Homo sapiens: one gene and its partners. The protein of the gene in region 4 interacts with the protein of the main gene of each other region in a biochemical or structural test. Each region holds a gene or a part of one and is shown on either strand. Other genes may lie near its edges.

The links.
Region 1: the proteins of PDLIM4 (region 4) and PARD3B interact in a test that uses a peptide from one of them, tested with the Homo sapiens proteins (one large-scale study listed by IntAct).
Region 2: the proteins of PDLIM4 (region 4) and PDZRN4 interact in a test that uses a peptide from one of them, tested with the Homo sapiens proteins (one large-scale study listed by IntAct).
Region 3: the proteins of PDLIM4 (region 4) and DLG5 interact in a test that uses a peptide from one of them, tested with the Homo sapiens proteins (one large-scale study listed by IntAct).
Region 5: the proteins of PDLIM4 (region 4) and SLC15A5 interact in a test that uses a peptide from one of them, tested with the Homo sapiens proteins (one large-scale study listed by IntAct).
Region 6: the proteins of PDLIM4 (region 4) and MAP2K2 interact in a test that uses a peptide from one of them, tested with the Homo sapiens proteins (one large-scale study listed by IntAct).
Region 7: the proteins of PDLIM4 (region 4) and SLCO1C1 interact in a test that uses a peptide from one of them, tested with the Homo sapiens proteins (one large-scale study listed by IntAct).

Annotation. Positions count from the first base shown.
Region 1 is NC_000002.12:205,612,475-205,615,974, reverse strand, and holds part of PARD3B (partitioning defective 3 homolog B), read right to left. Parts: intron 520-3,500; coding exon 162-519; 3' UTR 1-161. UniProt on the Homo sapiens protein: Putative adapter protein involved in asymmetrical cell division and cell polarization processes. May play a role in the formation of epithelial tight junctions.
Region 2 is NC_000012.12:41,509,820-41,513,319, reverse strand, and holds part of PDZRN4 (PDZ domain-containing RING finger protein 4), read right to left. Parts: coding exon 3,407-3,500; intron 1-3,406.
Region 3 is NC_000010.11:77,808,256-77,811,755, forward strand, and holds part of DLG5 (disks large homolog 5), read right to left. Parts: intron 3,366-3,500; coding exon of another isoform or gene 3,329-3,365; exon of another isoform or gene 3,214-3,328; intron 2,980-3,213; coding exon 2,839-2,979; intron 1,476-2,838; coding exon 1,292-1,475; intron 1-1,291. UniProt on the Homo sapiens protein: Acts as a regulator of the Hippo signaling pathway.
Region 4 is NC_000005.10:132,267,696-132,270,824, reverse strand, and holds part of PDLIM4 (PDZ and LIM domain protein 4), read right to left. Parts: intron 1-3,129.
Region 5 is NC_000012.12:16,239,686-16,243,185, forward strand, and holds part of SLC15A5 (solute carrier family 15 member 5), read right to left. Parts: intron 183-3,500; coding exon 1-182. UniProt on the Homo sapiens protein: Proton oligopeptide cotransporter.
Region 6 is NC_000019.10:4,096,623-4,100,122, forward strand, and holds part of MAP2K2 (dual specificity mitogen-activated protein kinase kinase 2), read right to left. Parts: intron 2,793-3,500; coding exon 2,579-2,792; intron 722-2,578; coding exon 657-721; intron 1-656. UniProt on the Homo sapiens protein: Catalyzes the concomitant phosphorylation of a threonine and a tyrosine residue in a Thr-Glu-Tyr sequence located in MAP kinases. Activates the ERK1 and ERK2 MAP kinases.
Region 7 is NC_000012.12:20,694,094-20,698,131, forward strand, and holds the start of SLCO1C1 (solute carrier organic anion transporter family member 1C1), read left to right. Parts: upstream 1-1,238; 5' UTR 1,239-1,714; intron 1,715-4,038. UniProt on the Homo sapiens protein: Mediates the Na(+)-independent high affinity transport of organic anions such as the thyroid hormones L-thyroxine (T4), L-thyroxine sulfate (T4S), and 3,3',5'-triiodo-L-thyronine (reverse T3, rT3) at the plasma membrane.

The DNA of each region.
Region 1 (3,500 bases), on a different chromosome or scaffold from region 4:
TTTTCTCTCTGATTAGCAGTCATGCGTTACAATGTCAGTGAGAAAAAGCTTATCAGTAACATGGAGAATTCCTAACACCAAGGAGGTCTTCAGGTTTAGAAAGGGCAAAGGTAGAGTAGACACCTTCCTTTCTGGACCGGGCTGGCCTCGGTGGCACTCAGCTATACGGCTGCAGTCATGGGGTTCTTCTGCCGGGAATCCTGGGTTCGGTAAGGGTACTGGTCTGGGCTGCCCCCACGGGGCCCTGGTCTGCCTGTTTCCTGATAGGCTGGCATTCTTTGGTGCTGGGGAGGGGAAGGCGGAACGTCTTGTCGAAAGGGTCCTTTGTGCTGGGGAGCTGGCGGGGGTGGGTAGTGCTGAGGATACCGGAGATCTGCCACCCTGAGCTCTGTGGGGCGGGGATAGCTCCCTTTGGGAGGGTGCATAGGATGAGCCCCTGGATAATAGGGAAGCTCCCTTTCCTTGTAGAGCCCCCGAGGTGCTGCTGGCAGATAGTCTACAGGATCTGCGGGTCCTCCCCTGGAAAGAGAAGAAGAGACACATGTTAGCAGCTCCTAAGCTGGCCGTCCGGCTGGAGAACATGTTCCTCAGCCTCCTGTGCAGTTTGGTGTGGCCACCGCATAGGTCTGGCCAATGGGATGGGAGCAGAAGTGATACGTGCCCTTAAAAAGAAGAGAAGGGAACTTCTTCCCTTCTCTCCTTCCTGTTGGCCAGCAGAAAAACCATCTTAGGCCACAAGGTGAAAACCACGTGCTATGGGAGGCAGAGCAACAAGAAGGTGAGAGCCTGGGTCCCCGTTGCCATGGAGCCACCATGTCAATCAGGATTGCTTCCATTCACATTGGTGCATGAGAGGAAAATACACTTCAATCTGGTTTATACCCTTTTCTGTTGGCCTTTATTATAGTAACCAAACTAGTTTCCTAAACAAGGCAGTGAGTTTGCCTCTCTTAAGGATGGGGTCATTAGTTCCCTCCCCTTTTCTACCACCATATCCAGGACAGGCTGGGCTGAAGTCTGTCCTAGGCATGGTGATAGAAATGTTCAGGTTATTTGGAGTCATAAAGTTTCCATGGACTGCACTCGCTTTTCTAAATCTGTGAGGTGCTCTTTTAAACGGGCTGTCATCTTGGTCTAACTCTGGTTGGCTGCTGTTACATCTTGGTGTGGATTCATATGTCCCTCCCCTCCCTAAATGCTCTACAGTCCTTAGAAAAAGTCCCAAGCCAGAGCACCTAGAGCTCTTTTTTTTTTTTTAATTTTTTTTTTGAGAGGGAGTCTCATTCTGTCACCCAGGCTGGAGTGCAATGGTGCGATCTCAGCTCACTGCAACCTCTGCCTCCTGGGTTCAAGCGATTCTCCCACCTCAGCCTACCGAGTAGATGGAACTACAGGTGCCCACCACTACACCTGACTAAGTTTTGTATTTTTTTTTGTAGAGATGGGTTTCATTATGTTGGCCAGGCTGGTCTCAATCTCCTGACCTTAGGTGATCTGCCTGGCTCGGCATCCCAAAGTACTGAGATTACAGGCGTGAGCCACTGCACCCAGCCCACACCTAAAGCTTTGATATAAAGTAATCAACTCTACCACAAAGCCAGGAAGTAGCACCAGTCCAGTAGCAGAATAGGGAAATGCCAAACCAGCTGTAAGTTGTACCTTGTAATGGGTAAGGCACACAGAAACATCCAGGGTAAGAATAGACACTAACAGAAAGTGGCCCTGTCTGGATCTCTCACTAAAGAAAACAAGCATCTTCTGATCCGTTTGCCATAACAGAAGCAGTGTGCCTCTAAACAATGTGCAGATGACTGCATTTTATCTAGCCTGGGGTTAAACAGATGAGTTCTGTTTGCAGCTCTTAAAATCTCATAAACCTTCTGTGCACACATTCACCACCACCACCATCCCCAGATCCTTCCCATTTTTTTGCCACTCCCCCTTTTATAATTTTTAAAAAAGAAAAACAACAACAATAATTAAGGGAAAGCTCCCCAATGTCAGACACACTGCTAGGACACTTGAAAGAAATGACAGGGCTGTGAGAATACAGTGTCTGTGGTTAATCAAGCACTGTCAATGAGGGTCAGAATCACCCTGTAATCTGTGGAGGTGGATGTTAAAACAGCTCTGTAAGTTGCTCAAATCAATGAAGATTTGACAAGCTCCCAGCTCGGTGCATGTAGAAAGCAGCTTGTGAACAAATCTATAAGGATGAACAATAGAATTCTCTCTACTTTTTTGTCTTAATTTGGCTATGTATAATAATGAAAGATCCTTGAGCTTGGGGTAATTTAGTTAGAGTTTTCAGATAAAAAATTAAATTGTTTGTGTACAAGTTATTATAGCATCAGCTGCTATTATTCAGTGCAGTTTGCTTTGCTGTATTTTAAATCGCCCATGACAAATGGAGCACAAATGGATAATCTGTCACTCTAGCCATGGGAAATAAAGGCTCTGGATTTCACCTTTCCCTTTCTTTAGAATTTCATTTTTGATTTAGAAAACTTCCAGCCTTCGGTATATCTTTTATCATAAGAATTCTTTAAGTCTCTCTCCTCCACCTCACCATGCTCATTTTCATTTCCTTTTGGTTCATGTTGGAGATATCCGATACACTCAAAAAATTTTTCTTAACCTGTACTTTCTCTCAAAATCCACTGAAGATATTTCTCTGCATGAAGTGAAACATGTGGTTTTTCTGCACTCATTTTAAGCCCTTAGGATAAATCACTGACATTTGCAACACACAAACATTATTTGCCTTCAAATGAACATACAACCAGCCCTCCCTCCGGACTCTCTTAGCATGAATGCTTCCTGTTTAAAATGGAAAGAGAGAAAGGAAGAATTCCAGGCCTTGGACTTTTAGGGTCCTGTTCTCTCCCTGGAGATTTCTCTCTCTTAAAACAGAGCATTATAAAAGACAGGCACGCCTTGTTTTTTTAAATTTTTGGAGAGAGAATCCAGATCAAGTGGTGACAGGGCAGAAGCCACCCTGAGAGGTTGTGACAGTACAGTCGGCGAGCACATGGGGGGACAGTCGCTATCTCTTCTCCCACACCTTGCTCCTCCCAGGCAGCCAGTGCTCACAGCTCACAGTGAGGGGGAGGCTTCCCGTGGGCAGATAGGGCAGACCTCAAGATACTTTTGTGGTCCCATATTGCTTCCTCTGAGGGGAGGTTTTATGTCTGGGAGTTTGCTTGTATGTGGCAGAAAGCAAGAGAGGTAGCTGTTCTTTGTCAAGAAATGAAGTCATGGAAATTGTCTTTTTCTGTGGAACTCATCATAACAGTTAGCATTTTTAATTTTTCAGAGAGAAGAAAAACAATGAGTTGGCCTACTAAAACACTGTTTAAGGTTCAAAGAGTGCTAGAAGAATTTTTCTTTATTTTGGGGGATGGTGTGTAGCTGTTGTTTATAACAACATTTTGTTCATAACAGAATTTCCTACAGACTTTTGTCAGAACAACTTCTAAGTTCTTCTGACTATTATGTGT
Region 2 (3,500 bases), on a different chromosome or scaffold from region 4:
GGTGTCATTAAATTTTCATAGAGGTTCCTAACACACCAGAGTCACCATAACATGGACACTGAGTATAATATCTCCAAAGAAGCATTTGCTTGTCTGCCGTGGCTCTGAAGGGACCTGTTACAGTCCATCAGTGAAATAATATGTGTGTTAAAAGTCCCTAAATATGTATTTACAAGATAGTCAGATCTGTTTTGGTCTATTGGGTTAATAATCCATGCACTAAGTCTGTATATAAGTACTCACGAGATACACAGATCAGCTTTGGTTCACTGAGTTAATAGTAAGTAGGTCTTTAAAAAGGCACCTAAATAGCCGCATAGTTTGTATTTTAGCAAGTTCAGAAATGCAGTCTATATACTAGAAGCTATTTCTTTTAAAGTGTGGATGCATTGCTCTTGCTCTGGTGGATGCCAAAAGGTGTGCTTCACTCTAACCTGTAATATTTTGCCATTAAAATGTCAGAAGAAAATTGCCATAGCACAAACTATATTGAAGCTCTGAGGCACAGCCCTCCAGGCTGGGGTGGATGCTGTCCTAGATTATGTCATACATACTCCACCCGCTATCACCGCCCAGGTCCAATACCCCACTCCCTCTCAGCTGACTTTGCTTCCTTCCTGTCAGTCTCAGACCAGCAGCTGGAGTAATCCTGTTATGGCTTTCCTATGTTCCAGCAACTTCCCATCTCAGAGTCAAAGCAACTTCCTATATCATGGTCAAAGCCAAAGGCTCCACAAAACACACCCTCCTTTCTCTGAATTCACCCCTTCCACTCTCTCACTGGTCTCTTTGCTACTCCTTGTACACCCCAGCATGCTTCTGCTTCAGGTCCTTTGCCCCTGCCCTTCCTTCTTTCTGAAAATCTCCTTTCACATGGCTAGATCTCTTATATTCTTTAGTTCTCTTATGAGAGAAGTCTTGCATTACCACTCTGTATAAGACAGCAACATCCTGTCCAACACCACTCTTATTATTTTCCATTAGTACTTCTCACCATTGAAAAGAATATGTCTTTACTTTTATGTTTATTGTTGACCTCCCTCTCCTAGAAGCTCCTTCCACTGGGGCAGGAGCTTCCTAATCCCATGCATAGATAACTGCCTGGTACATTTTAAGTCCTCATTAAATATTTATGGTACAAATGAATGAAAGCAGATGAAAAAGGAGTCTTCTTTCTACTTCCTTGATTGCCTGGTTGTGCTCATGTTTAGGTTGAAGAGGAATGCATATCTCTTTCTGAGCTGAAGTCTTCTTGGCCATTAAACCTCACTTTCCTGTGATATTCTCTCAGTGGCACAAAACTGGTACTTCCTTAAGGTGCTCATCCATCCCGCTCCTAGAGCTATAGGGTTATAAGGAAGCTCCTAGAGGAGCTAGGGTCATCTCAGCTGGTCACAGAAACACCAGATCAGTCTGCTTCTAGGTGTAACAGTAAAAGTGCAACACATAGACAGAATTAGCATTTCTAAATCTCTTCACTGAATGAGCCTAATGGTGTCCACCACAGGCTCCAATGATGGCAGTGGACTGACTAGATTTTGCAGTTTGATGCAGCCACAAGGGATGGCATGTGCCACTCTATGTGTGTGTCACATAATGATAACAGACTGAGGAGTACTGGGCAGAACCATTATTCTCTCTTGAATCTGGTAAATTTCTCTGGAGGTATTCTCCCATGCCTCCACTCCCACCTTTAACCATGCATGTTGTTCTCAAATGCATCCTTTCTAATGATTGAAAACTGTCATAGCAACTCCTTCCTTATTTGAATTTCACAGGAACATTCTTTATTTCAATCACTCAGAAAGGAGCCTTTGGCAACGGAATCACAGCTGACAGCAAATTAATGACTATGATGCTGTGATTAGTTGAGATTACAGGCTACAGAGAGCTTGTCTGAGAATTCACCACTGACATCATCCTGATGCTGGCTTCTGCTGGGGATTAATATTGGTCAAAAAAGAGGTTGTGGTTCAGTTACAGTAAGCTCCATAGAAATGTAAGGAAATCTGTCTGTATTGTAATATTTCAATGACATGCTGATTCATTTAAAGGGCTTTTACTGTTAACTTGCTTAGCCTAAACAATCTTCCCCTATGCCCTCCCCGAGCACACTGACTTATTTTAATAAAGCTTTAAGGCATCCAAATAAAAAGTTGAAGTGATCTACATAATTCCAGTCCCCAAACTGAAAGTATTCATTAACCAAAAGGAAAACATAAGAATCTTGAATTATTTGGATAAGTCATTCAATTTTATAATTTATTTTACATGAATAGACAAAGCAATGGATATTGTAATGCATGTCAGTGCTTGAGTAGATTTAGAAAATAAAACTTTTCAATCAACTTAATAAAGAGGAGGTAAAAATTTAACATGAACAACACAAGAATGACAAAAACCATCTACTCAGTTACCAGTTGTCATTTCACATCCTTCTAAATTTTGGCTGCAAAGAAATAATGATTTCTGTAATCCCCAGGAATGACTTTTGTGGGGAGAAGATTTCAAACAAACGTCCATTTGCTTTAGATGAGCTTCCTTATTTGATTTCAGATCCTCCTAAGGGAAGAGATTTCAGGATTTCCTGGTTGTAAAGTGGAAGAGAACACTTTGCTGAACTTGTATGACATCACCTGAAGCATTAAAAGGGCAGGTGACCATGGGTTCTCTGCCTGTTTACCAAAGCTTCTTTACTTCCTCAATCTATTTTATTTTTAAATGTCAGAGTAGTCTGAAACCTTTCAAAGATATTCAGGCTGCAGAAGCAGAGGAAATATTAGGATACATTCTTTAACTTTTGTGAGAGCTTTTAAATAATCAATGGATGGACTTTTCGAATTGTTATATATCACAGTACAGATATTCTGACATTAAACCATGTGAAGAATAAATATAGTTTAACAACAAAGGGCATGAGGCCATCTCTATTTCTAGGAAGTCTGTGAAATGGCTCTTTAGAGTACAGACCAGAGGCACAAAGAGAGTATTGCATTTCCAAAGAATACAATATAATAAAATTTAGTTTATCAATGAAAATTAGAATATTATACAACAAATGAAAATAGTAAACACAATCTTTGTTTTAAATATATTTTTCAAACTCCACTTGGAAATCCACATATATTATAGAACAGATTTTAAAAATGTAGCTGTTGCAATATTATTTATTAAAAAGCAACAAAATGAGAGCAAATTATATTTAAGCTTATACTATAAAAATATTTTCCAATATACTTAAAACACGAGAGCCACATAGCTAAAGCAAATAGTATTTGAAAGATCTTACACTGGATATGTAATAGACAAGACATTTCTCACTGTAATAAATTAATTTCTTTGTTATACAAAACCCCTCAACCGTAACTTCATGAAGAAATGTGAAGTGGTATGAAAATGACCTTACCTCATATTCAAAGTCTTCTGTTCTGTCTGCATCAGCAGGCAAGCTGGAAATATACTCATTGTCCTCATAAAATTCATGCTCCATTGGATGTAGA
Region 3 (3,500 bases), on a different chromosome or scaffold from region 4:
GTTGCCTGTGCTTTTATTTATTTATTTTCTGAAACAGGGTCTCCCTCTGTCACACAGACTGAGTGCAGTGGTGCAATCACAGCTCACAGTAGCCTATACCTCTTAGGCTCAAGTGATCCTCCCACCTCAGCCTCCAGAATAGCTGGGACAACAGGCACACTCCACCACACCTGGCTAATTTTTTTGTTTTGTTTTCTGTAAAGACAGGGTCTCACTATGTTGCCCAGGCCGGTCTTGAACTCTTGGGCTCAACTAATTCTCCCACCTTGGCCTCCTAAAATTCACAGGTGTGAGCCACCAAACCCAGCCCAACTTGTGCCTTTATATTCTCACAAACCATCTCCCCCATGAGGCAGGAGACCACAGAGAAAGACCATCCTCTCTCATCAGAACAGAGTCCTGCAGCTACATCACCTGAGGGCGAGCACCCCCTGATGCCCAGGGCCTGAGCCAAGGCTCTGCCCTCAGGTTCCCTCAATGGCCTGCCTGGCTTCACAGGGACCTCCTCAGAAGGGCTTGGCAGGATTCTGGGTTTACAGGGATTAAAAATCAACCCTGGCCAGGCACAGTGGCTCACGCCTGTAATCCCTGTACTTTGGGAGGCCGAGGCGGGTGGATCACCTGAGGTCAGGAGTTTGAGACCAGCCTGGCCAACATGATGAAACCCCGTCTCTACAAAAAATACAAAAATAAATTAGCTGGGCGTGTTGGCGCATGCCTGTAATCTCAGCTACTCAGGAGGCTGAGGCAGGAGAATCGCTTGAACCTGGGAGGCGGAGGTTGTGGTGAGTTGAGATTGCACCACTGCACTCCAGCCTGGGCAACAAGGGCAAAACTCTGTCTCAAAAAAAAAAAAAAATCAATCCTGAGGCTGGACACGGTAGCTCATGCCTATAATCACAGCAGTTTGGAAGGCCGAGGCGGGCAGATCACTTGAGGTCAGGAGTTTGAGACCAGCCTGGGCAACATGGTGAAACTGGTCTCTACTGAAAATATAAAAATTAGCCGGGTATCGTGGCACATGCCTGTAGTCCCAGCTACTCGGAAGGCTGAGGCAGGAGAATCGCTTGAACCTGGGAAGTGAAGGTTGCAGTGAGCTGAGATTGTGCCAGTGCACTCCAGCCTGGGCGACAGAGCAAGACTCTGCCTCAACAACAACAACAAAAGTCAGCCCTGACTGGCTCACCAGATGAGAGGCTGTACTCCTCCGTCTTTGGTGCCACCTGAGATGGCAGCAAGCCCACTGTGCAGGTAGATGGAGGCCTGGCCTGCTCAGCAGCTCAGAACTCACCTCCAGGATGAGGTCCCCTGGCACGAGGCCGTCAGGACCCTTGGCAGGACTGTCATCCTCCACCTCGGCCACAAACACCCCATGCAGGTTCCCACCACACAAGTGCACCCCAAGCTCCAGCTGGGACTTTTTGATGAAGACAACGCGTGGCTCCAGGGTCTTCTTGTTGGCATCTCCCGCAATCCTTTCAGGAAAAAAACAAAGTTCCTCAACTGTGCACAAAGAGGAGGCACAAAAAGACAAAGCAGTGGCCAATGCCCTAACCGCTTTCTGCCTGCTTCTTGGGGTCTCAGAACCACAGGGAGCTGAGAGGTGGCCTCTAGTTCTACTGGCTCGGCGTTCGGGACAGGATGCTAAGGTGCACTGGAGATGAAGGCAAGACCCCAGGTCCAAAGCCAGTTAGCGGGGGCAGTCAAAACCGTAAATCAGTGCCCCTGCTCCCAGGCCCGGCTATCAATCTCATGCCTTAAAGATCAGGATGGCCTCCCTCCCATGTGGATCACACTCATTTTCCTAACTTAGTACTTCCTAAGGAAAGGTAAAGTTGGCCTCACTGTCCAGAGCACAGCAATGTATTCAGCAAATGTCTACGAAGAAGCTTCTATAGACCAGCAACTGCTAACTTGTGAAGAGGGGCCCCTTGCCATCAAGGCACTTACAATCAAGGAAGGGAAGCTGAAAGTAAGCTGCTGAACACATGGAGGGAGTGAGATGGGACAGCGATGGAAACAGATACAGGGGGCTTCAGGGGAGATGCCAGCCCGGGAGGAAAACCTTGCAGCAGGTAAGTTCCAATGTGACAGACTCTGGTATAGAGAATGCAGAGCTGGCCTCATTCTGTGAGATGCTGCCCAGGGCTTGGTGAAGGCCTCTCAGTGCTGGAGACACAGCTCCTCCAGGACGGCAGAGTGATCATGTCACACCATGGCCTGGATGGCCCTCCCTGCAGCCCCAGGCCAGGCTGGACGCTGTGCAGCTCCCATGGAGCTCCTTCCTCCTCCTGAACTCTGCTGCTCCCTCGGCCTGGACTTCTCTTTATGCCCACTCTTGGCTCTTGCCTGTCCTGAACATTTTAATCCAGCTGCCACCTCCCCTGCCACACTCCAGTGATCTTCCTGCCTGCTCTGCGGCGGCCGGCAGTGCCCTCCCAGCACCCTGACTCTGCTGCACGTGCCCGGCACTGGTCTGCCACCTCATTGGGGGAAGCACTGCTGTGGGTGGCCAGAGCCCAGGGCCTGGCCGGGTGATGACTGTGGGAATGTGTCCAAAGACAGACTCAGAAAGCGAGTGAACAAGAAAAGGAGAAGAGAAAGAGAAGATGCAGGGGAAAAAACAAGTCAATAGAAAACAGGAGAAAAAGAGAAAGGAAAAGAGAGAGTAGGGAAGGAAAAAAGGAATGCCGTGCTCCCGGCCCAACTCCTGAAGACCTGGTGTGCGGCCTGCAGCACATGAGGCCAGCTGCCCAGTGCCCACGCCACTTGGAGAATGTGCTCAGCCCCACCCAGCCGAAGCGGACACAGGGAAGGCTCACAGCAACGTCTGCTGACCTGGAGCTGCTCTGCTTGGCTGGGGGGGTGCTAGGCCCCTCGTCCTGCTCCATCAGTGGGTCGATGACAGATGGATGCTCCGGGGTGGTGGTGCCACTGCCCTGGAGAGTGGAGTGGGTACCGGCAGGGTCCAGGTGTGAGCTGGAGGCGGAGGACAGGAGGGATAAGGAGCAGTACGAAGCCACCCAGAGCCACCCCCACTCCTGTGGCAACTAGATCTGAGCTATAAATGGGGACCAGGTCACATAGCCCTGCACCCTGTGCCCTGAGCAGAGCAGACACATTAGAAGCCTGGACCCATGACATCCACCTGTCCTCTCCCCTCCACCTGTCCTCAGCTCAGGGGCCCTCTCCAAAGGCATCTGACCTCAGGAAGCTGTGAGCATCCTGTCTCTTTTCCTCTGCCTGTGCATCCCATCTCTCCTGCTGAGCTTGTGGCGCAGCACTGCAGGGCATGCCTCCCCTTCTTTTCTGCCCTTCAACCCACAGCTCAGGGGCAGATACAGACAGGTGTACAGCATCTGCTCCTGGACAGGGAGCCAAACACTTTGAGTGAGAATCCACCCCCGGGGCCACAACTCCTGGCTACCATGGGCCCCTGCTGGTCAGGGGGACCACAGCCATCTGTTTCCACACCCCATTTCAGGAGGAGACAGCCTCTC
Region 4 (3,129 bases):
GTGGTGGATGTCAGTTGGCTTCCTCTGCTTCGGCATCTCTGGCCTGTGGTGCTCAGCCAGGGAAGGGATTTCTGGGGAAGGGCTGGGCCTGGGGACTGGTTATGCCCCTGCAGAAATGAGAAACGTCCTTGGAAAGTCAGACACAAAAACCTGGGCAGCTGAGACTCAGCCTGGGCTTGTGAGCCCTGCAGTGGTTCTGCCCACCACCACTCAGGAAGGGACAGTACTGGGGCAGGCCTATCCCAAGAAGCCTAAGGTCTGTGTGGCTACAGCAGAGTATGTGGCCTCCTGGCAGAGGTGGCCCTGGTGCCAAGCCTTCTCACCTTCCTGAACTGTGGTGGGTACTGGGTAGGCCCATGGCTGGGAACTCAAAAAACGTAACTCCTGTCCTACAGTCAGAAAGGGTCCTTGACTGTCATGTGTCCAAGGCCCTTTGGGCAGGCTGAGGCTCAAGAGTGCCATTGTGAGGTCAGCCCCTTCTGGGCCTACACCTGTCCCCCATTTCCTGCTTTCCAGGCCACAATGAGTAGCCTTCTGCAGGCACAGCAGATGAGGGGCAGAGACCAGGCTAGGGCTCAAGGCTCTCTGCCCCACTACCCCACAGCCAGCCTGGTGCCCATGGCTGAAACATTTTGGGTGGGAGTGTCCTGAACCTGCCCCCTCAGCCATGAGGAGAGGGCAGTATCTCTGTGTGTGGGGGTCTGAGTGGGGACTGGGGATCTTTGTCCCTGCAGAGTCCAGAGCTGTGCAGTTCCCAGCTTGCAAGTGCACACAAGCACCCCACAGCAATGTAAACAGGGGCATGCACACTCTCACAATTATGCTTTAAAGACACACACACACACATAAGGACAACACATATGCACCTACCAATCTCCCTACATACAACTAACTACATGCGCATGGTTACAGAGACTTGGAGCCAGCACTGGTCACCCTGGGAATGGCCATAGTGGCCTCCATAGCTGAGACTGGGCTAGTAGCCAGAGCAGCCTGATTTTAGGATGATGTCTGAGGCCAGGCCATGGGGTAGGTCTTAGCCTCAGCCTGGGAGTGACGTGTAAACCTCCTCTGCTCTACAGTGTGGTCAGAGAGCCCAGTGTGGACAGGAAAGGATGCCTATCGTAGTGGGAAGAACCCTGGTTTGGACTTAGGAAGCTCTGAGGCATAGTTGAGCCTGTGGGGTTCTGCCCTGAGTACCCCCTGCTTTTTGTAGGGTGGGAACCTGGGGAACAGGCAGACCAGCAGTTGGGTGGGCCCCCCTCCATTTCCCCCACCCCAACAGACAAACAGGAGGGTCTTGCTGCCCAGGTGGCCCCCATCAATGCAGCAGCAACAGGAAAACCCCTATCCACATCAGGCCCAACAAAAGCCCCTGAGAAACGTGAGCGCTCTCACACGTGTGTCTGTCGGGCAAGCATGCAGGCAGGGCTGACCTCTAATGGGGACCAGATGGGCTGTGGCCAGTGGGGGTGGGGCTCAGCCTCCGGGCAGAGGCTTTGGTGGGAGGGAGGAGTTGGAGGGACTGGGACTGGGAGGAAGGAGGCCCTCACTCACCCCTACCCAGCAGGGTGCAGGGGTCCACTGCAGGGCCATCAGAGCCACTGCCCCTCCCACGGTCACCCATGCAGCTGCCTCTCTAGGCCTGAACTCTGTGGCTAGGACACACATGGCTACCTCAGTTTTAGTTTGAGTCCCAGGGTTATCCCCTAACTGGGCAAGTCTCTTCACCTCTCTGAACCTGTTTCTTTATCTATGAGCTGGGGAATGTGATGCTTTCCACATCAGGTTCCTTGTGGAGATGAAATAAGACAATTGCATAGTGCCTGGCATAAAGCACATACTTGTTGGATGAATGGCTGTCAGGGGAATTCCTGGGCCCCCAGTCCTGTATTTTCCCCCTCTGTGGGTGGTACACCTCGTACCATATGCTCCTCTGCTCTGAGAACCAGCCTGCTGCCCACTTGGTTGTTGAAGCCTCAGTGGATTTTTCAGCAGGATGGGGGTAACTACCTGCTTTGGGACACTCAACTTGGATGGAGGCAGGCGCTGAGTCCAGATGAGCAGGTGCCATCTCCTAGAGGCTCAGTTCTAGCTCTCTGCTGGTCTGGGGAGGACAGGCTGAGTGTGCAAGGACTGCCTGCTCCACCTGACTTGCTTCTCCCCATCACCTGGTTCTGAGCATAATTGCCACTCCTTCCAGAAAACCCTACTAACCCAGAAGGATAGTAATAAGTTACTATCCTTCCTCCACCCTGGGCTAGGCCAAGTGCCTCCTGTGTTCCCACAAGAGGCCTGAGAGAAGGAGGTTCTCCTATCGCCCCACAGGGAAGGTGGGCCTGAAGTTCCAGCTGGCCCTGTCCCATCCCACTCGGGGATGTGTGCCAGGGCACCTTGTGCTGGTCCTAGGGCCAACTGTGGTTTCCTCCTCCTCGATGGCTCCAGCTAGCTCCACCCCCTCCCCAACACCCCCACTCAGGCAGAGGGTGGGAGCAGCATGGGGACAATGGGCCCTGTGTCTGTGTTAGCAAGGACTCAGCCCTGCAGGGGTGGGGTGGGGGTGTTTTTGTCACCACCCATGGAGCCCATGACCTTTTAAGTACAAAAGTGGGGCAGCAGCTGAGGGGCTGCCCTGGTGCTTGTGGAAACTCCCTCCTTCTCCAGTCTGAGCCACTGGCAGCCTGGTCTTCAAGGGAGTCAATGAGAACAAGTGTGGGGGCAGGGGGAGCTGCTCTACAGTCGCCAGCCTCCCAGGCCCACCGGCCCTGAGCCTCTCCTGGAAGACTGAACCCCCTCCCCACCACGTCATCCTGGCACTGCTACCTCTGAGGGAGGCTGGGCCTCATGCATGAGCTTGAGGCCCACACCCTGCTGCTCCCCTCTGCCTGGCCTGTGGCAAACCTGGCTCATTTGTCTATGGCAACATGTACCCCTACCCCTAAGGTCTGGGGTCCATGGGGCCATCAGAGCAAGTTTCTGAGACACAGATGTGGCCATGAATCCCTGTAAGAACAGCTGAGGTCCAGGATAGAGAAGCCCAAGAGCCTTTCTGTGGCCCTGCTCCACCACCTCATCTCTCACCTCTGTCCTCTCACTCCTTCCATCTTGTCCTCCCTTCCCCTGGACCTT
Region 5 (3,500 bases), on a different chromosome or scaffold from region 4:
CATGTTGACAGAAATGATCCAACTCTCTTAGAGGGAAACAGGCAGGTGCTGAAATACTCCAGAAAAGGAGCCAGAATTAGTAATGGTAGGCTGCTGATGGCATTCATTACTGCAATCGGCAGAAGAAATCCATCCAAATTCAGGTTGGAATTCATAGTTTGCAGATAATATCCTGAAGGAATCTGTATTCGAGAGGGAAACATCCATGCATTAAGACAGGGGTTTAACTTTGAAGAAAGCATCGTCCACCAGAGGCCTACCCTCTTGCACGTACTCTGTGATGGATGAGCTGGATGTTGCCTAGTTTTTCAAGTTCCCAGTTATGAGCTGATAAAGGGTCTTCATCTGTGGTGGTAGGAGCTCTGTCTAGTCTATTGACAATAGTACTCATTACTCATGAAATACTCTATCATCATTTAGTCTCTCTTAATTTTTCTATGAAAAGTAATGATGGCCCCAATTTTGTGCTTAAGATGACACATAAAAAGCCAAATAACTTAAATTCTGTAGATAAGCAAAATGACTTTTCTTCATGAACACTAATATAAAACCAGTAAAAAATACTAAAGACGTCTGTTTTTACCCTGATGAAAAAAATGAGGCTAGAATAGATTCTTTAAAAAGCATCTAGTTTGGTGGCAATATAGAAACGACTTTTTCCTAAGAAGAGGGGCCCAATGTGGACACGTGTTAATTGCTGTAGGCTGTCTTTGAGGGGGCTATTTAGAGAGGCTTTGTTTCCAATGTGAACTAAGTAACAGGGGGAGGAAAAAAAAACCTTGTGTCTTTGCCCTCCCTTCAAACTAATTACGTGATGCTAGAATTCCATAAAGGAAACAACATGAAAAAGGTTTGCATGATAAAGTGAAAGATACAATTTTTTTAAAAAAAAACCCTGTGCTCCACCCCAAATCCTCAATGTATTGTTAGAATTTCTTCATTTTAAAAATAACCCCAATGCTAACTAAAACTCTAACACTGATTTGGAGCCTCTTAGTGTATTCCAATCCTCTTGGCAACCGAGTGTGATATCAGAACCAAGGGATGATGTCACATGAAAGAGGTGTCTCTTCACTTTTCTAGTACATGAGCTTTGTTACAGCTTCATCAGCTTCATCATGATCTTTTTTATTTTTATTTTTTTTGAGACAGAGTCTCGCTCTGTCACCCAGGCTGGAGTGCAGTGGTGTGATCTCGGCTCACGGCAAGCTCCACCTCCCAGGTTCACGCCATTCTCCTGCCTCAGCCTTCCGAGTAGCTGAGACTACAGGCGCCCGCCACCACGCCTGGCTAATTTTTCTGTATTTTTAGTAGAGATGAGGTTTCACCGTGTTAGTCAGGATGGTCTCGATCTCCTGACCTCGTGATCTGCCTGCCTCAGCCTCTCAAAGTGCTGGGATTACAGGTGTGAGCCACCGTGCCCGGCCCATCATGATCTTTAGTAGCGCATAGTATTTCTTTAATTCCCAGTGGTACACAAAGCTATTGAGTGTCATAGACAGAAAGTCAACCAAGTCTTCTTGAGGAATGGATCCTCCAAACTCGTATGGTACAAGAGCTGCATTAGGATCCCTGCTTCACCACCATCCTGGGAGAGCAGCCTCGCTCAAATATCCAGATGATAACTTCTCATTTGAAACATTTGCTAACCCCTTCTCTAGACTCAATTGTACAATTCAAGAGGGTATATATGGAGAATCAGTATTATGGTGTCAGTACAGCTGTTACCAAGTCCACTAATTGTAAAATGAGCCTATTGCCATGTTAACTGCGCAAACACAGGACAAGACCACATTTTCACTGAGATTCTTTCTGTAGACAACGTGTCCTGGTGATCATTTATCTCCCAATCTTTAATTTGACCCTTAGCATAGTAAACAAGGATTGTTTTGGCTGAGTACAGATGGCAAGAGTTAAAGGAACATTAGTTAGTTCTGCCCTACTTCAATAAAATTATTAAGCATGGATCCCCCATCGGAGGAAAATGAATGATGTGTTTTAACAAAAAGTGCTGGCAGCGGAACAACTCTAAGACTGAAAGGCTCCCAGCACAACTTGGAAGTTTCTGTTACTGATTTCAAATGAGAATTATTGTTAATAGGAATAAAGTTATTATCGGCATGAATCACAGACACAGAAATATGTTAACTTAATAATGTGGCAAATGTACTATTAATCTTTAGTGAAGCAATATTAATATATTGCCTAATCTTAGAAAAGGCTGCAGTGTCTTGAAAGCTTGAAATCATTTCTGCCTCTGCCTGAAGTTCTGAAATCATCGCCCTGTAAAATTTTAAATACTTTTATTTCATCCAAGCCTTTGAGTATTCAGAAATAATTGCTGTCAATAGAGATTCATTCTCACCTTTGACTGGCCAGTAATGTCAAATGGCAACCTCATCAGCCGTAATATCAACATATTTTAGATGTATGTCTTGCAACTGAAGGTCAATAATGGCTACTAAATTTAAAATATGTATGAAATTCTATGATGTTTTATTCTTGGTACTTTGATTGCCTTTGTACTGGTGATTATTTCATCTGGGGGCAAAAAACTAAACCCAGCCTATCCTATTGGAAATTCCTCTGCCTCCCTGGTGAAGTATGATCTAAGCATTTTCTTTGAAGTTTCTAGCATAACATTACTGTATATAATTTTGGAATCTATGTAGTTTGTATCAGGGACTTTTAACCCAATGCAAGAGTGATATTGAGGATAATAAAGCATGGCGCTTGACACTAATCCTGAGGTGGGATGTTGCTCTGCCACACATTAGCAAGGTGACTGGGAACAAGTTGCAACTTAGTTTCTGAGCCTCAGATTTAGGAGAGTAATAGCCATGTAGCCTTGCTGTGGGGATTAAATTACGTACTGTGAAGCCATCTTTTAGAAGCTATGGCACTTAATAGGTGATCAGTAACTATTAGTTTCTGTGCTTTGCAATAAGTTGCACATCTAGATTTGGTGATATGCTTAAAAATTAGTTTATCAAAATTTATTGTAATTTATGTTCAATTAAAAAATATATGACAGTGTGCAAAGAAGGGTCCAACTTAGTGGAAAGAAATGTCAGGTGTCATTGCATTATGAAGGTAAGGAACTGGTATTCTGTGCTACTTGCACATAAGCTTTTGAGGTTAGCTATGGGCCATGTAGTAATTTTGTACTGTTTATCGGTTCCTCCAATCTAAGATGTTTTATTATATTAATGCTTACATATATGGGTAATATTTCTGCTGTATTCTGTTTTTGTGCCTACTGCTATTATAGAGTCAAGAGGGAGTTTGAATCTTCTAAATCAGACTAGCTTTCATGCATTATTTAGTCTAGAGGTCAAGAAATTTTCTGTAAAGGGCCAGATAGTAAATATGTCCACATATGGGTTCCGTGGCAATTACTCAACTCTGCTATTTTTGTGCATAAGCAGACATAGATACGACAAAACAAAGAGCATGGCTATGTTCTGATAAAACTTCATTTATGGACGCTAAAATTTAAA
Region 6 (3,500 bases), on a different chromosome or scaffold from region 4:
GGTCCTTCTAGGCTCTCTGGGCCTCCTTCCAAGAGGCAAGGGCCATTCCTGTACCTTTCTCCGTGGAAGCGGGGTGATTTATGAGTCCACGCCCACGGGCGCCAGGACGCTCTGATGCAGAGACACTGGGCCACTGCTCAAGGGGCAGGCTGGCTCCTCGGCCTGAGCCCAGGGCTGCTGGCACACACCTCCCTCTGGACTCAGGGTGAGAGGCTGCGGTGGGAATTCTGGGTTCGTCTTCATAAAAAAACAATGCCCTTGGGAAGGAGCTGGGCTTGTGCAGCACAGTAGAAGATGGGAGACGCGACACACGTGGAATTGGTTCAAGAATTGCTTGAACCTGGGAGGCGGAGGTTGCAGTGAGCTGAGATCAAGCCACTGCACTACAAAGCTAGACAATGTCTCAAAAAAAAAAAAAAAAATTAGCTGGGTGTGGTGGTGCGCACCTGTAATCCCAGCTACTCGGGAGGCTGAGGCACGAGAATCACATGAGCTTGGAAAGTGGAGGTTTCAGTGAGCCGAGAAGGCACCACTGTACTCCAGCCTTGGTGACTCTTGCTCTGGTCAGAGAGAGACTCTGCCTAAAAAAAAAAAAAAAAAAAAAAAGAAAGAAGAAAGAAAAGGAAAAGAAAAGCCAAAAGGCATCAAGCACAAACCTCGTTCACAATATAGTCCAGGAGTTCAAAGATGGCCATGGCAGGCCGGCTATCCATCCCGTGACCTGCACAGGGAGAGAGATGGAGGTGAGATGGGCCGATGGCCACCTCACTTCTGCTGGGGGTTGGGCTCCCAGGGGGCTGATCACCACCAGGCGCCCTCCTCCACATGCCAGCCTAAATTGGAGGCGGGTGTGCAGAGGCACTGGACAAAGCTCCCCTGCCTGACTCTGGGTTCCATTCCCTGGGACAGCTACTCCTTGCCTGAGCCTCTAGTGAATTAAAAAAAAGGCAAAAGGAACAAGAACATTTTTTGAGAAGTCACACATTTGGCTCGGTGAGGCTTGCCGGACGTGCCAAAGTCATCACCCCTCCTCTCTGGAGGGCAGGGGGAGGGACGGTGCTGACCGCAGGCAAGGACAGCCGCGTGACCTTGCATGGAGCTGCTGGCGGTGATGGGGGCAGGCCCCAAGTGCCACTCAGGACGGGAGACTGGCTAGGGGTGGCTGACCCCTGTCTGAGAACCAGCTGGCCAGGCCTGGGCTTGGCAGCTGGACTTTCGCCTTCTGCCCGTCCTGAAATGGGCAGGTGGGCTGGGGCCCTGGGCTGGGGATGGTATACCACCTGAGAGTTGGGACTGGGAGAGGCTGAGGCTAGGCCTGAGGATAAGGACTTGGGGGCCTCTCCCTGGGATGAGATCAAGACATCCCAGCAGTCTGGCTGGAGAGGAGGAGGTGGGCTTGCCAGTGCTATGAAAATCTCCTTCTCACAGCCCCAATCCATCCGGGTAGGACCACAAAACGTGGCCTGTTCGTGTCATAAAATACTACTCAGCCTTTCAAAAGGACCCAGGCTCTGACACGCACCATGGCGTGGATGACCCTTGAGGACACTGCGCTCCAGGAGAGAAGCCACACACAAAACACAGAAGGCCACACAAGTGTGTGACCCCATTTCTGTGAAATGCCCAGGACAGGCCAGTCCAGAGGCAGGAAGGGGATGGAGAGTGACAGCTGATGGGGACAGGGTTTCCTCTTGGGGAGCTGAGAAGGTTCTGGAATTAGAGGTGATGGGGCGCAGCACTGTGACTGAAAACCACTGAACTGCTCACCTGAAATGAGTTGTGGGGTGTGTGCTTTGTAGTTCGGAAACATGGTTTTAAAACCAACCACAGTCCGCTACAGGGTCCTTTGGGGTCTGACGCCACCAACTCTCCCTGATGTCTGACTTTAAAAAAAATCACAGGACCCTCCTGTGATTCTGCACCAAGCAGGGTCCGCCCCCGGCTCTTCCCTCAGGCGGTGGAAGTGTCCGCTCGGCCCTCTCTGACTGGCGTCAGGGAGCTCCCGCTCCCGAGGTGCCCGCCCTAAGTGCCGGATTGTCCTCTGCGAGCCCAGCTGTCCCTGGGGCCTGAGCCCTCCCGCCCCCTCCCGGGCTGTGTCCCCTCCTGTGTGTGTTGGGGCCGGAGCCAACAGGCCACTGAGGGCCATGCCAAGTCCAATCTCCACTTCAGGACTCCCTGGAAGGCTTGGCCCGCAGCACAGGAGCGTGTCACCTGCAGAATGCAGGCTCTGTGGCGGCCAATTCCTTCCACTTTTCTGTGCGTTTGAATGCTTTCGGGATAAAATGTTGGAAAATCCAACTGCCCAGGGGCTTGGTGGCAAAGCTGCGCTCCCAGATCCCTCCAGCTGGCAACAACAGGTGCAGCTGCCCCGGACAGAACAGGTTTGGGGTGCTCACTGCTTCCAGCTCTGTCCCCGGAAACCCCAGGACCATGGGAGGACTGCTGACCACAGTCGGCACCATCCAGGGGGACAGGTGGTGCGCCAGGGGCAGAGGGGAGGCAGCTGCTGACCCTGGCACAGCAGGCCCCGCGCAGGGCACTGCGCGTCCAGACCGGAAGTTGCAGATTCAGGCCGTACCGCTGACGGGGCGCCCGGGGGGCCTCGGCCGAGGCGAGATGCTGTGAGGCTCTCCTTCTTCCCCGTCGACCACGGGCCGGCCAAAGATGGCCTCCAGCTCTTTGGCGTCGGGCGGGGGGATGGGGTACCTTCCGACGGCCAGCTCCACCAGGGACAGGCCCATGCTCCAGATGTCCGACTGCACCGAGTAATGTGTGCCCTGCAACCGCTCCGGCTGCAGCAGAGCCAGGGAGGAAAGAGCCCAGAGGGGCGAGGATGGCAGCTGGAACCCGGGAGGCTTGCCCCGTTACAGCCCCCGTCACCCTCTCCATGGCTAATGACCGCAGCAATGGATAGAGAGCTGTTACGCAATTCTACCTCCCGGCTCACCCACCCAGGGCCTCCCTGCGGCACTTGCTGAAGAGGCTTCCAGCCCGAGGCCTGGAGCTGGTGTTGACCGCAGCTCTTGAAGAGCCTGCAATGCTCAGCACTTTTGGGAATGGATGATGGGCCCCAGGAAGCAGGGGCCTCCTCCTCCACAGCTAACATCTCAGAGGCTGCTCCAAGGCTCAATTTGGCAGGTTGCTGAATCCCCAGTCGTTTCCTGAAAGACCCCAGATTCCAATTCCTTGGTCCAGAAATTAACTAAGGGCCGGGTGCAGTGGCCCATGCCTGTAATCCCAGCACTTTGGGAGGTTGAGGTGGAAGCCCAGGAGTTAAGACTAGGCTAGCCAATATGGCGAGACCCCATCTCTACTAAAAACATTTTTTTAAAAGTTAGCCAAGGCTGCCGGGCACGGTGGCTCACGCCTGTAATCCCAGCACTTTGGGAGGCCGAGGCGGGCGGATCACAAGGTCAGATTGAGACCATCCTGGCTGACATGGTGAAACCCTGTCTCTACTAAAAACACAAAAAATTAGCCGGGCGTGGTGGCGAGCGCCT
Region 7 (4,038 bases), on a different chromosome or scaffold from region 4:
ATGAAAGGCTGAAGTAGGCTACAATCCAATGCAAGGTTGCACATAAGAAGCTCTGAATAAGTGTAAACATTATGTGCATTCAAAACAGTAACATTAACTGTGGACTCTGGAAATAAGAAAAGGAATCGTGTTGGAGAGTGAGACTGAGCCAGTTGGGAATAGACAAAATTACATTCTCAAGGGAGAATTTCATTTCTTGGTGAGGAAAATTATGCCCTTTGGGCTGGTAAATACTGTCTCCTCTTGAATAAAACAGTGGTCTGGCCACCTGTTAGACACTGAGAAGTCTAGACTAACACTCAATGTATTCGGATGTTTGCTCACTATTTCCGATGGAAAAGTCTGGTTTGATTGTTAAAGTAAAATATTTGGCCTTTCAGAGTGTGAAAACACCATTGCTTCATTGCAAGGTTTAATATAAACCCATTTTTCTTGCATTTTCTTTTCTTTCTTTTGTAGTAAAATGTGCTTGAATAATATTAACTATTCTGACCATTATGTGAACTAAATATATATATATATAAAATGATGATACCTTCCGCTCATTTGCAATGTGCTTTTGAATACATTATATAATTTAATCCTTAAAACAGCCCTATAAATCTGTTTTTTTTTTTTTTAAACAAAAAAATTCTGCTTTACAAAGGAAGAAGTTGAGACTCAGTAAAATTAAGTGACCATCCCAGAGTCTCAGCCACTTAAGAGTAGGGTGAATCTTGGATAATTCTGGTAGCAAATTTATTTATTGGTAGAAAATAAATGCAAACTACTACTGCTTAAGATCCTCTAAAGTTTTTCTCTTGGAAAAAGAATGTATTAGAATTGTGGACTTTCTCAGTGCAAGGATTTATTTATCCTTGGAATTAGGCAGAATAAACAATTGAATGCCAAAAATTCAACGTGTTTCTTTTCTGTTTTCAAAACTCATAGAAATTGTAAATATGAGCAACTGATCATGTCTCTGAGAATTAACTCTTTTTGTACAGAGCGCTGCAGAGCTTTGATTGTGACCTGATACTTGGTCCTTAAAGATTCTAGAACACCAATGGAAAAGAAAACCATGTAGCAAATTAGCCCAAGAACCGTTAAAGACAAAACAAAACAAACCAAAACCAAAACACACAAACAAAGAAAACACAAGGATCCCAGTGATGTCCCTAAGGAATAGTTGGCTTAAAAACTTTCTGGAAGGAGGAGGGGTCTCTGTTATAAACTTCCGCCCTCCTCTGGCTTCTGTTCCTTACCCTCTGCCCCCTGCGGAGTTGTGTTTTCTGGGAATCAGCAAGTAAGATCACAAGTGGTCTTTTCTTTTATTCACTCTCTCCCATAAAGAAAGCTTTATCACGTGTGGCCTTAAACTTGCAGCAAATTGCAAAGAAATGGCTCAAAAGCTTCAGCTCTTTCTGTGCCCTGGGAGCTGAGATGCACGTCAGTGGCCTTGCCAGCGTGGCCAATTCTCTGCTGACTGCCAGAAAAAAGAGGCCAGGAAGAAAGAGGAAAGAGAAGAGATCGCTCAGGGGTGAGACCATGCCCTTCATCTTTTCTTTTCCCTAATCTCCTCTGCTTGTGTCCACCCACACTCTCCCCACCTGGCAAAATTGTTCAAAATTGCTGTGGAGTTTACCTCAGTTTCCTCTTTCAGTCTGTGGTGTGTGGTCCATCCTCTTGCTGAGCACATTGAAAGGAACTGGCTATCTTTGATCTCTTCCTCCAGGTAAGACTTGGTTCTCTCATTTTATATTTTGTGACTAATACATCAGATTCTTATGGGAGATTAACCCTTAATTTCTGTGCGATTTATGTTTTATCCATAAAAATATCAGTGAAAGGTGATGATCCCCTCATTAGTTTGATGGAAATAAGAGAGAAGATTGGTTAAAGAAATCAGATAAACTCAAATTTGAGTTCAAATTTTGAGTCTCATGCTTATAAATTGTTTAGCTTTTGACAAGTCACTTAATTGCTTTGGGCCATCTAATTTAAAAAATGGAATTCTAATATTACGTTTGTTGGGTTGTTTTAAGGATTAGAAAAAGTACGTACATTACTCAACACAAAAATAGTACTTATTAAATCTGAATCTGACACAGATAATTTGTATTAGGTGAGAAATTAGTTTCTAAACAACACACACTCCTCTGCAGCAAGTGCCGTGAGGCTATTTTTTAGTTTGTCTGAAGGGAGGCATCCTGGTGTCCAGAAGTCAAGCCAGGACAGAGGTTTTCCTCACAGGAGATGGCCAAGAGAAGAGAGGGAGGAGCGTGGTTGCCTTTAGGACTTTCTCTGTGGCAGTCCTTGGGGACTGATTGCTGGACAGAGTCCGAGTCAGTTGCAGAGCAGAGGGGTTGAGTACATCTGCGGGATCTAACTACAACCTTCCTAAGCCACTTGCTCTCTCCATTTAAAATCTGGAGGGCTGATTTTGAAACTAATGAGGACTGATTATTCAATGTTTTTGAACCAAAGGAAGAGAAACTGCTTGGCTTGTTTTTCTTTGGCCTCCAGAATAAGTTATGCTCCAAACCCAGGGTATTGGATGAAAACTGTCGTATGTCTTTTCCTGGAAGAATCTATTCAAGTGGCCAGAGATCAATTAAGGATTTGCCAAATGCAAATAATTCTGAATAACTGTGTACTCTTGCTCTACTTCTGCAGTTGCAAATGAAGAGAGAGAGCCTGCAGGCCCCAAGGATCTTTCCGTTCATGTCATTGAGCTTCCTTCCCTCTCTTTTTACAGGGGATGAACTGTAGCCTCCTTGGAACATACTACACTTGCAATAATTTGCGCATTAACCATCAAGACACTTCAGTAAAGCTATGCAGTGCCAATAGTTTAAGCTGGATCCTATTTTGCCCTAACACAAAGTGAACTGAGATGACTATATTTATATTTCATTATACTTTTGAATTTTAGTTACAGTGATTTTTGTGTCAACACCTCCATATATTAGATAACTTAAAATGTGCTATAGTATCTCAAGTTTTTCAGTAGTGTTTTTAACATAATTATTTTTTCTCTTTGACATTAGCATTCTAGATGTAACACTTTGGATCTTTTAAAGATAAATTTAGGATAAATGATAGCAGATTTTATTATTAAACAATTTATTTGTATTTTCTGGTCACTGACTTTAATATTATGACTGATGAGAAATAATATGATATCTGAATCCCCAAAAACAGAAGGCCAATTTGAATTATATAATTTAATCCTTTGAAGAATATTGCAATTTAAGCCAGAAATTTAATAATTATCCGTTTCTTATTTTAAAACCTTTCTGGTTTGTATATCTCTTGCTTGGCAATATTTTTACTCATAGTTTTGTAGTAAAGATACCTATTTAACATTGTATAACTCTGCATTTCCCAAACCCTGTTTTCCTTGTCCTGGCAAAATACTGTTCTAGAAAAGTAGTCCTAGTGACTCAGTAGATATAGGAAGTTGGCTGTTGGTATCAGATACTGTTAAGGAAGAATCTCTATATTCTTCATTTCTTAAACTTTGTTTTTTAAATCAGTAATAGATGTCGAATTTTATCAACTGATGTTTTTCATGTAATGAAATTCTATTTTTTATTTTGAATTATTCATGTGGTAATTTAGGTGAATAAATTTCCTGTAATTAACCAATTGTTGCATCTTTTAGAATAATTCTAATCATAGAGCAAGAGTTAATTTGGATTTGCTAGCATTTACTTAGAATTTTTATAATCTATGGGCTTGATCTGAAGTTTTCCTTTCTGTGCTATCTTTGTGCTGTTTTGTTACCAAGATAATGTTATTTTTGTCAAACTAATGGAGACAATGATTATCTGTTTCCATTATCGGCTATCTTTCCTCAAAGAATATCCCTTGATAAAGCACTTCTGGTGCATCATCTATCCTTAGTATCTTTGTTTAGGGAATAGTTTCAGAGTATTTTTGATAATGTCTTTCTTGGCTATTTTCTCTTCTGGTTTTTATCAATATAGGTAATGAATATTTGCTAGAAACTTATCCATTAAGTCAAGATATTAAACTTACTTCAACATTCGATGC